2 separate regions of the Homo sapiens genome follow, and region 1 is linked to region 2. Evidence: fine-mapped expression QTL. A gene starts in region 2. The other region holds a variant in brackets. All regions are shown on one strand. Distances are between the middles of the regions. Region 1 overlaps CDH23 (cadherin related 23). Region 2 holds the start of C10orf105 (chromosome 10 open reading frame 105).

What was found. PIP is the estimated chance that this variant, and not a neighbour inherited with it, causes the effect.
Region 1: its variant is fine-mapped to the expression of C10orf105 in whole blood (INTERVAL, PIP above 0.99).

The regions. Positions count from the first base shown.
Region 1 is chr10:71,746,217-71,754,216 of GRCh38, reverse strand. The region is part of intron 38 of CDH23 (cadherin related 23); the gene reads right to left. It overlaps VSIR (V-set immunoregulatory receptor), which reads left to right. Exons shown (of 7, transcript NM_022153.2): 5 at 1,215-1,242; 6 at 2,356-2,549; 7 at 2,927-6,661. The coding sequence ends at 2,964. Among named protein-coding and RNA genes, the nearest start is that of VSIR, 23 kb to the left of the region's middle. RefSeq lists enhancers at 5,245-5,374, 5,575-5,624, 6,010-6,219. The variant C/A (reference allele first, on the strand shown) is at 3,505.
Region 2 is chr10:71,715,135-71,723,134 of GRCh38, reverse strand. C10orf105 (chromosome 10 open reading frame 105) reads left to right here and starts at 3,357. Exons shown (of 2, transcript NM_001164375.3): 1 at 3,357-3,508; 2 at 6,793-8,000. The coding sequence starts at 6,798. The coding sequence ends at 7,199. All of the region lies in intron 28 of CDH23 (cadherin related 23), which reads right to left. RefSeq lists an enhancer at 3,220-3,968 and a silencer at 5,885-6,082.

The DNA of each region.
Region 1 (8,000 bases), 31 kb before region 2:
ATGGCTGGGGGTGGGTGGGGGCAGGTAAAGGGCTTGGAACAGAAGAGCAACGCTGGGCAGCAGGGCAGGGGGAGCAGGTGTTGCTGTGCCCTCCCTGGTGGAAGGCTGGCCCAGAGAGCCTGCTCAGGAATGAGGCACTCTCAGGAAAAAAAGAAAAGGAAAGGGCTGGGAGCCTTGAGGACGGCAGTTTGCTGGAGAGGCCAACAGGTGTGGATTTCCATCCTGCTTTGGACTGAGCCTCAGTTTCCCCAGCTCTAAAATGGGACCAACAACCCTCACCCCAAAGGGTGGCACAGAGGATGAGATGAGGGAATACCCGTGTGCACCTGCACGAAGCCTGACCCATGAGTCGGCTGTAAGCAATAGCCATGGTTTGAATAGATTTCAGGAACTTTTGGGTAACTTCCCTGTGTTTGTTCTGTTGTTGTGCCCCTCCCCCACCATCTGTTTCCCCATCGTAATCAGCAGTAAATCTCCTTAAAACGAGAAGCATCTGTGGGAGGACATGGGGTGCTGCATGAAAGAGGGAAGTTGGGGTCACTGCATCTAATTGGTGGCCAGTTTGGGGGGTGGGGTGTCCCAAGGCTGAGGCAAGCGGCAGCAACTTGGATGAGAAGCAGAAAGTGAGTGAAGTGGCTGGGAAGTGATCGGGGACTTGCACCTTGTAAGGTTTCCCTGAGAGATGTCCCCTAGAATGCCACCCTATTAGGCAATGTAGGGGATAGGACAGAGAGGACCAGGAGCCCTCTAATTAGGAACTGACCTTAAACACTCCCACCCAGTAAGTCATGGCTAAAGACCAGAACCTGGCAAATGTTCAAACAAGAGACACCAGTTAGCAAATTCAAGAGTTGACCTTTGCTCGATACTTAAATCCTGAAGGTCTGACACTGTGTAAGTCAAGCCATAGGAGAAAGCGCTGGCTGCCTTTGGTCTCCTGATGGCAGATAGCGTTCTTACACTCCTGGAAAATGCAGATAGAGTTTCATTTATCAGTCGTCAAAATGGGCCCCTCATGGAGGCCCCATCTGCTGGACAGACACGCAGATCGCTTGCTGGACAGCACCCATGTGAAAAGAAATGGAGTCCGGAGCTGTGCAGGGCCCTCCTGGGCTCGCTCCTGTTCCCTGCAGGGCATCTGCCAGCAGGGGCAGGGATGTTGTATGGGGAAGCCTTCCCTTCCATGACCAGCTTCTCTGTCTGTCTGTCCCTAGGTGCCCAGGAGCTGGTGCGGATGGACAGGTAAGGCCCATGGAGACCTTCTTGAGAAAACTTCCTGGGCCGGCTATCCAGGAAGAGATACTTCTGTGCAGTAGGGGCCCTGTTTAGCTGCCTAGAGCAGCTGGTCAGAAGAGCCTCTGCCATCTGCTGCTGAAGCCTGCACATCTGTGCAGATTGGCTGTTCTCCTGCCACCCCGACTCAGCAGGCTGAGCTCTGATTCTGCTCAGATGTGTCATGCACCCACCTTCGGGTCTCAGTGGTCAGCCTGGGCCAGGATGGGGACAGGGAGGAAGCACTGTCTGGGGCAGACAGTGAGACATGCAAAGGAGGCCAGCGGGCCCAGCCCCAGCCACAGCCCTTGAGCTGTGCCTCCTGCCCGCAGAGAACTCCAAGGAGAAAGCTGTTAGGCCGCTGCAGGCCACAAGGGCAGAGGCTGAGGGGTCCCAGAGTGGTGCAGTGGGCTGGGTCTAGGGGCAGAGGGGATGGGGACTGTGTATTGGTGTGCTCTGGGCAGGAAGCTGCCATGCAGCCTGGCCTGGAGGGTGTGTTCAGGGAACCCAAGTTCCTGCCCCGGTACCTGCAACACCAAACACAAAGCTCCTCTAGGTGTTTGAAAGGGATGATCTTCAAGACAGGTTGAAGGAAGTCCTGCTTGCAACTCATCTAGAATCTAAGAGTTGCAGGGGTCTTCAGAAGTTATCCCACTCCCAACTGGGAAGAGAAGAGAACCCCTCCCCTCAGCTCAAGACAGGCTTTGGGGATGTTCGATCCTAATGCCATCAACTCTATTGACCAAAGAGAAACTTGTCCCCAAATTCCTGAGGCTGAAGTTCTAGAAGTGTCTGTGATTTTTGGCTTCCTGGCTGTGCCCGGGGTTGATGGTCAGACCACAGGGAGGAGCTGGGGTCTGTTCTGGTGGGCCCTGATGCCCTCAGCTCAGGACAGGTGGGCAGGTGCAGCCCATGGCCTTTGCTCTGTGGGCCTGGCTCCTGCCTTCTTGCTTGGAGATGCTGCTGAGGCTTGGGGATGGGGATGTAGGTGAGAGAAAGGGAGGAGAGAAAAACTGGGGGCAGGGAGGGCAGAGTTCACGCTCCGGACAGCACAGATGACCTTCCATTCTGGTTCTGTGGCAGCAACATTCAAGGGATTGAAAACCCCGGCTTTGAAGCCTCACCACCTGCCCAGGGGATACCCGAGGCCAAAGTCAGGCACCCCCTGTCCTATGTGGCCCAGCGGCAGCCTTCTGAGTCTGGGCGGCATCTGCTTTCGGAGCCCAGCACCCCCCTGTCTCCTCCAGGCCCCGGAGACGTCTTCTTCCCATCCCTGGGTAAGTGTTTCCTGACCTTCACAGCACGATGACCTGTAAGGTCATGACCTCATGGCCTGCAGGGCATCGGCCTCACTCCCTGCCCTCCCTGAAGAGTTCCACGGCCTCACGGGGTGGGGTTGAGGGTGAGGGACAGAGGGGCCCCCATTCACCTCCCTGAAGAGTTCCACGGCCTCACGGGGTGGGGTTGAGGGTGAGGGACAGAGGGGCCCCCATTCACCTCCCTGAAGAGTTCCACGGCCTCACGGGGTGGGGTTGAGGGTGAGGGACAGAGGGGCCCCCATTCACCTCCCTGAAGAGTTCCACGGCCTCACGGGGTGGGGTTGAGGGTGAGGGGCAGAGGGGCCCCGTTCACTTTGCTTCTCCTTTTCTTGCAGACCCTGTCCCTGACTCTCCAAACTTTGAGGTCATCTAGCCCAGCTGGGGGACAGTGGGCTGTTGTGGCTGGGTCTGGGGCAGGTGCATTTGAGCCAGGGCTGGCTCTGTGAGTGGCCTCCTTGGCCTCGGCCCTGGTTCCCTCCCTCCTGCTCTGGGCTCAGATACTGTGACATCCCAGAAGCCCAGCCCCTCAACCCCTCTGGATGCTACATGGGGATGCTGGACGGCTCAGCCCCTGTTCCAAGGATTTTGGGGTGCTGAGATTCTCCCCTAGAGACCTGAAATTCACCAGCTACAGATGCCAAATGACTTACATCTTAAGAAGTCTCAGAACGTCCAGCCCTTCAGCAGCTCTCGTTCTGAGACATGAGCCTTGGGATGTGGCAGCATCAGTGGGACAAGATGGACACTGGGCCACCCTCCCAGGCACCAGACACAGGGCACGGTGGAGAGACTTCTCCCCCGTGGCCGCCTTGGCTCCCCCGTTTTGCCCGAGGCTGCTCTTCTGTCAGACTTCCTCTTTGTACCACAGTGGCTCTGGGGCCAGGCCTGCCTGCCCACTGGCCATCGCCACCTT[C/A]CCCAGCTGCCTCCTACCAGCAGTTTCTCTGAAGATCTGTCAACAGGTTAAGTCAATCTGGGGCTTCCACTGCCTGCATTCCAGTCCCCAGAGCTTGGTGGTCCCGAAACGGGAAGTACATATTGGGGCATGGTGGCCTCCGTGAGCAAATGGTGTCTTGGGCAATCTGAGGCCAGGACAGATGTTGCCCCACCCACTGGAGATGGTGCTGAGGGAGGTGGGTGGGGCCTTCTGGGAAGGTGAGTGGAGAGGGGCACCTGCCCCCCGCCCTCCCCATCCCCTACTCCCACTGCTCAGCGCGGGCCATTGCAAGGGTGCCACACAATGTCTTGTCCACCCTGGGACACTTCTGAGTATGAAGCGGGATGCTATTAAAAACTACATGGGGAAACAGGTGCAAACCCTGGAGATGGATTGTAAGAGCCAGTTTAAATCTGCACTCTGCTGCTCCTCCCCCACCCCCACCTTCCACTCCATACAATCTGGGCCTGGTGGAGTCTTCGCTTCAGAGCCATTCGGCCAGGTGCGGGTGATGTTCCCATCTCCTGCTTGTGGGCATGCCCTGGCTTTGTTTTTATACACATAGGCAAGGTGAGTCCTCTGTGGAATTGTGATTGAAGGATTTTAAAGCAGGGGAGGAGAGTAGGGGGCATCTCTGTACACTCTGGGGGTAAAACAGGGAAGGCAGTGCCTGAGCATGGGGACAGGTGAGGTGGGGCTGGGCAGACCCCCTGTAGCGTTTAGCAGGATGGGGGCCCCAGGTACTGTGGAGAGCATAGTCCAGCCTGGGCATTTGTCTCCTAGCAGCCTACACTGGCTCTGCTGAGCTGGGCCTGGGTGCTGAAAGCCAGGATTTGGGGCTAGGCGGGAAGATGTTCGCCCAATTGCTTGGGGGGTTGGGGGGATGGAAAAGGGGAGCACCTCTAGGCTGCCTGGCAGCAGTGAGCCCTGGGCCTGTGGCTACAGCCAGGGAACCCCACCTGGACACATGGCCCTGCTTCTAAGCCCCCCAGTTAGGCCCAAAGGAATGGTCCACTGAGGGCCTCCTGCTCTGCCTGGGCTGGGCCAGGGGCTTTGAGGAGAGGGTAAACATAGGCCCGGAGATGGGGCTGACACCTCGAGTGGCCAGAATATGCCCAAACCCCGGCTTCTCCCTTGTCCCTAGGCAGAGGGGGGTCCCTTCTTTTGTTCCCTCTGGTCACCACAATGCTTGATGCCAGCTGCCATAGGAAGAGGGTGCTGGCTGGCCATGGTGGCACACACCTGTCCTCCCAGCACTTTGCAGGGCTGAGGTGGAAGGACCGCTTAAGCCCAGGTGTTCAAGGCTGCTGTGAGCTGTGTTCGAGCCACTACACTCCAGCCTGGGGACGGAGCAAAACTTTGCCTCAAAACAAATTTTAAAAAGAAAGAAAGAAGGAAAGAGGGTATGTTTTTCACAATTCATGGGGGCCTGCATGGCAGGAGTGGGGACAGGACACCTGCTGTTCCTGGAGTCGAAGGACAAGCCCACAGCCCAGATTCCGGTTCTCCCAACTCAGGAAGAGCATGCCCTGCCCTCTGGGGAGGCTGGCCTGGCCCCAGCCCTCAGCTGCTGACCTTGAGGCAGAGACAACTTCTAAGAATTTGGCTGCCAGACCCCAGGCCTGGCTGCTGCTGTGTGGAGAGGGAGGCGGCCCGCAGCAGAACAGCCACCGCACTTCCTCCTCAGCTTCCTCTGGTGCGGCCCTGCCCTCTCTTCTCTGGACCCTTTTACAACTGAACGCATCTGGGCTTCGTGGTTTCCTGTTTTCAGCGAAATTTACTCTGAGCTCCCAGTTCCATCTTCATCCATGGCCACAGGCCCTGCCTACAACGCACTAGGGACGTCCCTCCCTGCTGCTGCTGGGGAGGGGCAGGCTGCTGGAGCCGCCCTCTGAGTTGCCCGGGATGGTAGTGCCTCTGATGCCAGCCCTGGTGGCTGTGGGCTGGGGTGCATGGGAGAGCTGGGTGCGAGAACATGGCGCCTCCAGGGGGCGGGAGGAGCACTAGGGGCTGGGGCAGGAGGCTCCTGGAGCGCTGGATTCGTGGCACAGTCTGAGGCCCTGAGAGGGAAATCCATGCTTTTAAGAACTAATTCATTGTTAGGAGATCAATCAGGAATTAGGGGCCATCTTACCTATCTCCTGACATTCACAGTTTAATAGAGACTTCCTGCCTTTATTCCCTCCCAGGGAGAGGCTGAAGGAATGGAATTGAAAGCACCATTTGGAGGGTTTTGCTGACACAGCGGGGACTGCTCAGCACTCCCTAAAAACACACCATGGAGGCCACTGGTGACTGCTGGTGGGCAGGCTGGCCCTGCCTGGGGGAGTCCGTGGCGATGGGCGCTGGGGTGGAGGTGCAGGAGCCCCAGGACCTGCTTTTCAAAAGACTTCTGCCTGACCAGAGCTCCCACTACATGCAGTGGCCCAGGGCAGAGGGGCTGATACATGGCCTTTTTCAGGGGGTGCTCCTCGCGGGGTGGACTTGGGAGTGTGCAGTGGGACAGGGGGCTGCAGGGGTCCTGCCACCACCGAGCACCAACTTGGCCCCTGGGGTCCTGCCTCATGAATGAGGCCTTCCCCAGGGCTGGCCTGACTGTGCTGGGGGCTGGGTTAACGTTTTCTCAGGGAACCACAATGCACGAAAGAGGAACTGGGGTTGCTAACCAGGATGCTGGGAACAAAGGCCTCTTGAAGCCCAGCCACAGCCCAGCTGAGCATGAGGCCCAGCCCATAGACGGCACAGGCCACCTGGCCCATTCCCTGGGCATTCCCTGCTTTGCATTGCTGCTTCTCTTCACCCCATGGAGGCTATGTCACCCTAACTATCCTGGAATGTGTTGAGAGGGATTCTGAATGATCAATATAGCTTGGTGAGACAGTGCCGAGATAGATAGCCATGTCTGCCTTGGGCACGGGAGAGGGAAGTGGCAGCATGCATGCTGTTTCTTGGCCTTTTCTGTTAGAATACTTGGTGCTTTCCAACACACTTTCACATGTGTTGTAACTTGTTTGATCCACCCCCTTCCCTGAAAATCCTGGGAGGTTTTATTGCTGCCATTTAACACAGAGGGCAATAGAGGTTCTGAAAGGTCTGTGTCTTGTCAAAACAAGTAAACGGTGGAACTACGACTAAACCCTGGGTCTCCTGCTTCCTCCTCACTGAATGGATTGGTATTATGGGCCAGGGCCTGGCTTGGCCTTCACCTTGGACTTGCTTAGAGCACATACAAGGGCTCTGGGAGATGAACTTGTGCCCACAGGTCCAGGGCTCCACTGTACTGCACACCAGAAACGTTCCTATCTGTGCTCTGCCTGCCCTGGCCTGGGCCTTCTTCTGGGTCCAGAAGACGCTGCTGCTGATGGGTAGGCTCCTTCCATATCAGCTCCTGCCACTCCCTTTTCTGCCTGCCAACTGTGGAGCTAGAGGACTCCTGATAGGCACAGTGGCCCATGCACCCCTCTTGCTTGCATTAGGGGATGGGGAAGGGAGAAACCCTCAGCAGCTGAGCCCCAGGGTCTCTTGGAGGAACTTAGCCAGTTGTATGTGGAGCATCTGGGCAGCTGTGGAACATCCCTCAAGAAGCCAGGCCAAGGGAAGGGTCTGGATGTACTTGTGCTGGGTCAGGGAAGGCCAGCCTTCTTGGTGCCACAGAGGGTGAGGGCCAGGCTGGGACCTTCTGATCTCAAGCCAGGGGAAGCAGAGTTCACAATAGCAGGGTCCAAGTCTAATAAACAGAAGGGGCCTCTGCTCTAAAGACATGAGGTGTACTGCCAAGAGCAGTGTCCCCAGCTCATAGACCGTCACGGGGCCGCTGCTGGGGACTTGCATACCAGAAGGGGGCGGTGGGAGATTTCTGTCCTTCTGCCTGGATAGGTGACTTCTGCAGGTCCTCACCAGCCTGAGAAGCCAGGGCTTCTTATCTGGAATAGTAGTATCGGTTGGCTGCAATTCACGTGGCAGGGAGGCCACAGTTAGGCCCTCCCTCCCTCTCCACCCCACTGCCAAGTGCCTCTGAGGTTGGGCTAACTCCTGACCTCCCAGTTACCTTCCGCCCTTCCTCCCTGGGCCCAGCTCTTCCTTTGCAGGGGCCTCCCTGACAACCACTTAAACCCCTCCCCCAAGCCTGGCCTGTCTTCCCATGGCCTGGAGCTAGGCAGGGGCTGAGGCTCCACAATGACTCCCCCGGCCAGTGGCACACCATTGTGTGGCGGGCCTGGGTCTGGCCCAGATACCCCTTGCAGCACAGCTGTTCCGAGTTCGGGTGATATGGGCTGAGGCCGGATGGGGGTGGCCTAGGCTGTTTGCAGGAATGTCCAGCTCTCAGGAACCTGGGGGGACGAGGGTCTCAGGGAGAAAAGTAGAGCTGGAGGGACTCAGAGAATTTCTCTTGGCTCTGGGGAGGGTCTTAGCAGCCAAATCTCAGGCCCCCTGCTTAGGGAGCCACATCTTTCAAAACAGGGATGCAAATGATG
Region 2 (8,000 bases):
TGGGTCTGCCCCTTCTTGTCTCACCACCTCTCACTTCAGCCCTGTGGTGTGCATGGGAGCTGCCATTTTCTTCCTGACCCTGCCAAGACGGTCAGAGGGGATTGGTCCAGGACTGGGTGCCTGATCAAAGCTGAGCCAATCACATTCTTCTCTGGGATTGTTGACCTTGGGCCCAGAGAGATTGAGTCAGTCTTTCTAGCAGTAAAATGTGGGAATATCAACAGCCCCTCTCTTGCACATCCCTGGGCCCCACTTCCCACCACTCTCTCCTCTTAACTGCCCTGGCACACTGGTCTCCTGGCTGTTTCTTGAACACCAAGCGTGTGCTGGCCTCATGGCTTCTGCCCTGGCTGTTTCCTGGCAAGCTCTCCCTCCAGATATTTGCATGTTCATGCCCTCATCTCCTTCAGGTCTTTGTTCAAATATCTTCTCCTAAGACCCTCCCTGAGCACTGCATATGAAATTATAGCCCCCACTCCAATGTCCTGGCCTTCCCTACCCCTGGTCACCCTCTGATACATGCTATCTTTGCTTATTGCCCATATCCCCACAGGAAGAAAGGGCTTTGTGCACTGCGATATCCCTGGTCTCTGGAACAACAATCCTGGCACACAGTAGGGTCAAATATGTGAACGACTTAGGAGCAGAGCTCCAGGGAGAGGAACTAGGCTGACACTCAGTAAGCACGAATGCAGGACACATACAACATTCAGCCCTGGTTTGCATCCTTGGGCCCAGTTATTCCAGGAGCCCATCTGTGCCTCGCTCCCTGTTTGATTTTTCCTTTGATCCTGTAGGGTATCCCAGTATTGCTACAGTACACTTCTCCTTCTGCCTAGATTATTATTATTTTTTTTGTAGAGACAGGGTCTTGCTATATTGCCCAGGCTGGTCTCGAACTCCTGAGCTCAAGCAATCCTCCCGCCTTGGCTTCCCAAAGTGGTGGGATTACAGGCATGAGCCACCATGTCTGGCCCTGCCTAAGATAATATAGAATGGATTTTCTTTCTTGCCACCCGAAGCCCTAATGTAGGCTTTCCTATCGTTGCTCACTGGACAAAACTGCAGAGAAGATGGGGATGGGTTCCTGCTAGCAAAGATCAAGAAAGCAGTGAAGGTGGGATTGGCTGAAGGTTTCCAAAGGAGGGAGCTGGGTTTGGAAGGATGGAGGAAACCTGGCTTAGCAGAGAAGGTTGGGAAGAACATTTGTGCTGGGAAACAGTGTTAGCTGAAGTAGAGGCAGCTGGGGAGGCTAAGGAAGGAACTAGGACCCCAGTCTGGAGTGAAGGGCTCATGCAGGGACAGCAGAGGGCTGTGGTTGGAAGAGTGGAATGACAGCCTCAATCAGCAGCACTGATGCCCTGGAACCTCCACAGGACAGGGAGTATAGACATGGTGGTATGAAGGCAGAGCGAGGAGCCTGTAGCAGGCGCTGGCCTCGATGCACATCCGGGCACTGCGGTAAGTGTGTCTAAGGATTCTGATGAGCATGTTGATGGTGGGGAGGAGGACGAGTACACTGGAGCAAAAAGAACAAGGGCCCTGGGTCAGGCACACCCAAGCATGAATTTAGGCTTTGTCACTTACTCTCTATGGCACTATGGATAAGTACTTTAGCCCCCTTGAGCCTCAGTTTTCTCATCTCTAGACTGGGCACAATGATGACCAGCCTTGCAGGGTTGAGGGGAAGATCAGAAGTCATCTTGCAAAGCGTCTTGGCTGGTGCCTAGCATGGGGATGTGTGGTGAAGGTCAACATGAGTGATGCCACCTTCTCCAGAGAGCCCTCTGGATTTATGCCAGAGCTGGGGATGGCTGGATTGCCCCTTGCCGTGCAGTTCTTTCTCTCTCCATTCCCTGAGAAACCTTAGGAGCTGGCAGGTGGAGGGATGTAACAGGGTGCTTCAATTGTCCAGATCTGGAAGGGCTCAGGATGGTGAAGAGAGCCACGTTGCCCAGAGCATGCCCTTGCATGCCTATCCATGGTGAGATTTCCTTGATGCCTCCCTGCTCCAGCAGCCTGCACCACCCTGGAAGCTTTGTCTTCTGTCATCTCAGGAGGAATGGGGGCCACAGATGAAGTGTTCAGTTGGTTTCAGGAGAGGAAGTTAAGGAAAATGAAGGCAGTGAATGCTGTGATGGAAGGTGCAGGAATCCCAATGGGGACTCTGGGCATTGAAAACACCTTTGGGCCGGATGCTTTGCCTACCCTGGATGCCTACTGCCTGCCCCTGCCCACCCAGCACAGGGGAAACACCAAGTCCCCCACCACTCACTTGCTGGGTGCCCCTGGGCAGGTCACACCTCTCTGGGCCTCAGTTTGGTCATCTGAGAGAAGACGGGGGCTCTTTTCTCTCAGAAGAGGAGTTAGATGACCCCTGAGGACCTCTCCAGCTTTAACAGTCCATAGGAAATCTCTTGTCCATCTTGGGGTTGGCAGACAGTGCCTCTTTTTATGGGCAAGGGCAGGAGGGAACAGCTAAAAACCAGAAACTGGGGCTCCAAAAAAGGGAATGGGTCTGAGGCTCAGGTCTTGGACAGGGCCATGACTCCTGTCTTGAGTTGCATTTCTGGGAGCTTGGAGGTCCCTGGTGGGGAAGCTGCCAAAGACTTGGGCTCCTAAGCAGGCAGCTGGTTGTCAGGGAAGCTCTGGCTTCTGGGGAGAAAGAAGGCTGGGGGAGGGAAGTGTGTGTGTGTGTGTGTGTGTGTGTGTGTTTTGGAAAGAGCCTCCAGTGGAGGTCTCCCGTGGCCCACCCGCACTGTGGGGAGCATGGCCTTGGAGGTCCGTCAGTCCTATGCTTTCTGCCCTGGGATCCCCCTGACCTTTGAAGATGCCCCTCACCCCTCGCTTCTGTAGCCAGACACCTTCAAAGGGAAGGTGCTTTTCTACAAGCTGAGGGAAAAGCCTGGAAGGAATGGGGCCCAGGGACGCTGCAGGAGGGGCCTCAGGGGCTGCCAGGGACCAGCACTCTCCCTGCTCCCCTCCTGCCATGGCTTGTAGCCCCTCTCCAGGGTAACCTGGTGGCTGGCAGGCACTGAATAGCGAACCTCTGGCTGCCGCCGACCATACCATTCAAACTTCCGACAGGGGAAGGTGAGCGCCATGGGGCCGCAGAGGCAGTAAAACCCTCCCCCTGCGTCTCCCCAGAGTCTTCCACCCCTGAGAGGGCTCCAAGGAGACAGGCTGGAGAGAGGCGGTGGGAAGGCCAGGGGGCATCCCAGAGTCTCTGGACAGCTCCCCTCTCCCTCTTCCCAACCCAGTTGCCATCCCTACTCCCTTAGCTATCCCCTCCCCCAAGGCAGGGCCCAAACTCTTCTAGACAAAGCCAGGTCCAGCTGGGGAGTGACGGGGAGGCCACTCTGCTGGCCAGGCTGACCGAGGGCTGCAGGGCACAGCAGAGCCTGGCAGGGCTGGGGTCACAGGCACTGCCCAGGGCTCCTTGGGCCTCCCTTCCACAGCTGAGAAGACCTCTCCACGGAGCTCCGGACGGCTGGGGTCTGGCTCTGAGGTCAGTGCTTGGGGGACTGCAGGAGAAGGCTTGGAGAGGGAAGTGTGGTGGAGACCCTTGCTGGGGACTCCTGGGAGAATGTGAGGGTATGCTCAGACCTAGGCAGTCCTCTGGTTCTGTAGAGAGGGGAAACAAGGCCCAGTAAGGGGTAGGGACTAGCCCGAGGCCACACAGCAGTCTTCTCTGCCCACAGCAGGTCCTGCTCTGTGGAACTCCAAGGGAAGAGGAGGGTCCTAGACTGAGCTTGCAGAGATATGTCCAGAGCAGGGCCCGCTGGTGCACCCTGGCCCCAGTGGGAAGGGAGTGGCTTCAACTGCCCTCCAGATGATTCCTGGCCTTGGTCCGGGCAAGGCATCCTCTCCCAGTACTAGCTGGCCTTTGCTGGTTGGTCAGTAGCCGGGTGTCAAGGGGCCTGGCAGCTGGACTTGCCTCGTGCTCCAGGAAGGGTGTTGTGTTGTTTTCAAGCACTTAGGAATCTCTCGTTGCCACAGGAACTACTCAGATGCTAATTACAACTCCACTTATTTTTTTTTTATTTTTTATTTTTTTGAGACAGAGTGTTGCTCTGTCGCTCAGGCTGTAGCGCAGTGGCATGATTCTAGCTCGCTGTAGCCTCAAACTTTTGGGCTCAAATGATCCTTCTGCCTCAGCCTCCTGAGTAGCTGGGGCCACAGGCACATACTACCACACCTGGCTAATTAAAAAACCTTTTTTTTTTTTCTTTCAGAAATGAAGACTCACTATGTTGCCCAGGCTGTTCTCAAACTCCTGGGCTCAAGTGATCCTCCTGCCTTGGCCTCCCAAAGTGCTGGGATTACAGGTGAGAGCCAACACGCCTGGCCTCACTTATTTTTTAAATTAAAGCAGGTCCCAAGGCCTGAAGCCTGGATCCTATTTGCTAGCCCAGTAGGGTCTCCAGATTCCTTTGAAGGCCTTGAAATAACATTAGAACTAGTAGGATTGAGGCATCTCCCATTTCAGACTGCCCTTTTCTTACTCCTGGCCAAGCATTGTCCAGGGTAGGAGAGAGGGATGGCTGATTTTCTCCCCACGGGAATGAGCGGTGGGCACACCCCATCCCTCCTCCCTGCTCAGACTCAAGGAAAGGCCAACCCATGCACAGCTGCCCAGCCAGAGTGCTCTCTAGGCCTGATGCCGCAAAGGCGGAGGCCCTGGGCAGCTAGACGGGCATCACACTTTCCAGCCAGGCACTGGGAGGGGTCGTTTTCTGCCTGGAAGTGCTGGGAGGGGTGGTGGTGGGGAATGGGTGGGAGGTGGGGTGCTCTGCATGCCCTCAGTTGGCTGGGCGCAGGGAGCCAGGAGTGAGGTCCTGCGGCTGCTGGTGAGTGCCTGGGGTAGGGACAGGAGTCCCTCGGGTGGGGAACTAGGTGGCCCACTCCCCTCCCCACTACCTGTGGCAGGGTTTCTCTGAGCGTGACCTGACATCTTTCCTCCTCCTGAGCTTCCGTGCTAGAAACTCAACTGTTATCTAAGCTGCAAGCTGGGAAGGAGGAAAATCTGCTATCCCCCACCCTCATGAAAAGGAAAGACCCCAAGGTTAAAGGGAAATCATGACTTTTTATCAGACCCCCTGGGATTGCTTGTCCACGTCAGTAGAATTTAAATATCACACATGCTGACCTGCAAGCTGGACGTCCTCTGCTTATGTGTTTGGTTTGGCCTGTGTAGTGTTTCAAATATTTGAAAATTCATTTCACATTATTTTGAAATCAAGTTTATTTGGCTTTTGCTGTGTTCTCCCCCACCCCACCTCTCTTCTTTCTTGCCTTCAACAAATTTGAATTAGCTGCCAACATTTAAACGTCTAGAATGTTTGCCTTTAAAAAAATCCAGATTTCTGGCTTCTCTTGGGAAACTGACAGAGCTGACCACACTGGGCCTGCACTCCGGCACTGACAGCACCATTCTGGGCTGAGGCCCCTCCACTTCCTTGAGAGGGCCCAGCCAGTGCTCTCCAGGTGGCCCTGCTCATCTGTACCCTCTGGTCATGTGTTATCTGCTGGCCAGGATCTGTGAGCATTTTTATTACAACCCCAGACATATTGAGCCAAAAGCTCAGCCTGGTTTTCCATCGACAAGGACCGTCTGCTGCACTGCGTCTAATGGGATGATCTTCAGTGGGAAAGGAAATGCCCTGTCAGGTGTATGATGTCCCTGGGGGGTTTCCAGCCCCCTTGTCAACTCCTTGTGGGTTTATTTCCCACCTGTTCCCAGAGCAGCTCACTGAGCTCCGAAAGGGCTGGGGGCCAGAGGGGTGGCAAGGCCATGGGGCCAGGAGTCAGGAGACCTGCTTCTGACCTTCACTTGGCCATTGGCTCACAATGTGGCCTTGGCCTTCCCACCACCAAGCTGCCCCACCCCACCCTACTGTGACCCACAATGCAGCCAGCCAAGCCTTCCCAAGGAGTGAGCTCTGGCTTGTCACTCCCCACCTCTAAAACCTTCACTGGCTCCCTAATGCCAAATCCCCTCTTCGGACCTCAGTTTCCCACCTGTCGTGGGAGCAAGTTGGACTGCATGGGGAAGCAGTCACAGGAATCCCCACGGGGCCAGGCAGGTGAAATAAGGTGTGTGGTGGGCCTGTGGGGGAGGGTGGGGAGCTGGAGGTCAGTGCCCTGTCTACAGGGGGCAGCGGCTGCTCAGCCCCAGACACAGGGATGAGGCAGGAACATGGGCCAATGCCAGTGGTGAAATTCTGACATTTCAAGAGAATTCAGGCACCCATATATTTTTGTGAAATCTGTTATTATTTTGAAAATATTCATAATTACATTGATAAAAACATGGCAAGGACCCAACTAAACACACCCGTGGGCCCCCAGTTTGCAGCTTTGGTATTAGATTACTGCTAGGGACCCTGGCAGCTGCGGCCTCTTACCATCCATAACTCGTTCCTGGCCACAGAGCAAGTTATTGACAGAGTTGGTCTTAAGTTTCCAGGCCTAAGACCCTGTGATGATTCATGAGGATTGATTTGAAAATGCGGACAGGCCACCGCCCTCTTGTCTGCATGGCAGATGGGCACAGGGTGGAACAGGAAGAGGGCCTGAGCTTGGGCCCAGCTCCATCACTGCTCAGCTGTGTGTACACTTAGACTTGTGATGTCTCTGGACCTTGCTGTCTTAACCTGTGATGTGGCCATGATGCTGTCCAGTTTAACAGTGCCTTGCCCCCATCCACATTCCCTAGGTAAGTCTTCCCTATACCCGCTGCCCTGGGTCCAGCTGATCTGCCTTTGAGCTTCTGTCTTGTTGCTGTTGCAGGAGCCATGAGCACAGAGGGCCCCAGCCTCGCCAGCTCCCCAGCCATCAGCCCCCTCGCCTTTCTCTCAGCTCCCGTCACTCCCGGGACCCTTGCAGAGGCAACTGACCCCCTCCCCATGCTCATCGCCCTGGCCTGCATCTTCCTCCTGCTGGCCACCTGTCTGCTGTTCATGACGCTCTGCAAGCCGGCCGCGCTGGACCCGAGCCGCCGCAGGGCTCACGAGTGCATGCCCCACCACCCTGGGAGCCCCAGTGAGCCCCAGCTCCGGCTCTGGAAGCGCCTGGGCTCCTTGCGCCTCTCCCTGCACAGCTTCCGCCATGGCCGGCCCACCGTCCCTCGACAGCCCCTGCCGGGCCCCGAGGACAACCGCAGCCACTGTGACTACATGGAATCTACCAAGATGTAATGGGGTGTCCACAAACATGCCCCCACATCCCCCTAGGTCTACCTGTAGATCCTCCTGCTTCAGAGACCGGTGCTGCAGGCTGCAGGAAGACAGTGGCCCAAGCAGTCTGGGACACACACTCACCCCCCGAAGCTCCTTGCATGCCCAGGCCAGCGCCCTTTCCCAAAGATGATCCTCAGAAGAGCACCTTCCTCTCTGCAGACCCCCTCGCTGCTGCTTGATGAAAGACTTCTGGTCAAGAGATGTGCACTCGTGGTCATCTGGGCCTTTGGCCTGAGGCTCCACAGGGTACAACCTGGGGCTCGTAACCACCTCCTAGAAGCAGCACCCTCGCTCGCCACAGAAGCCTTGCCCTCCAGGTGCCAAAGCCCAGCATGGAGAAGTTGCCAAATGGCAAAGGTTCCCTTTAGTCAAGTGAAATGCTCAGCCTACACCGGGGCCAAGACACTGTCCTGGCATCTGTGCTGGCCCAGTGCTGGGGCAAAACCTCGGGGCTCTCTTCCTTGGGTTTCCCGGGTGCTGCCAGCATCTGCCTGGTGCCCTGTGGGAGCAGCTGCCTCCCTCCTGGTGGAACAGATGCCTGGGTGCCAGCTGGGAGGAGGAGCAAACAGGGCTCTCCAAGCATGGTCTTGGCAGCCGTCTTGGTGGCCCCTCTTCAGGGCACCCACGTTGGGATCAATCAGGAAGGGATTGAAGATGATCGAGGAGGCTCCCTTCAGAGGCCAGGGCGGGTGCTGTGACAGAGTGGCAAGAGGCAGGGCATTTCCAGCAGCTGGAGGTGATGCCACCTGGACTCGGAGG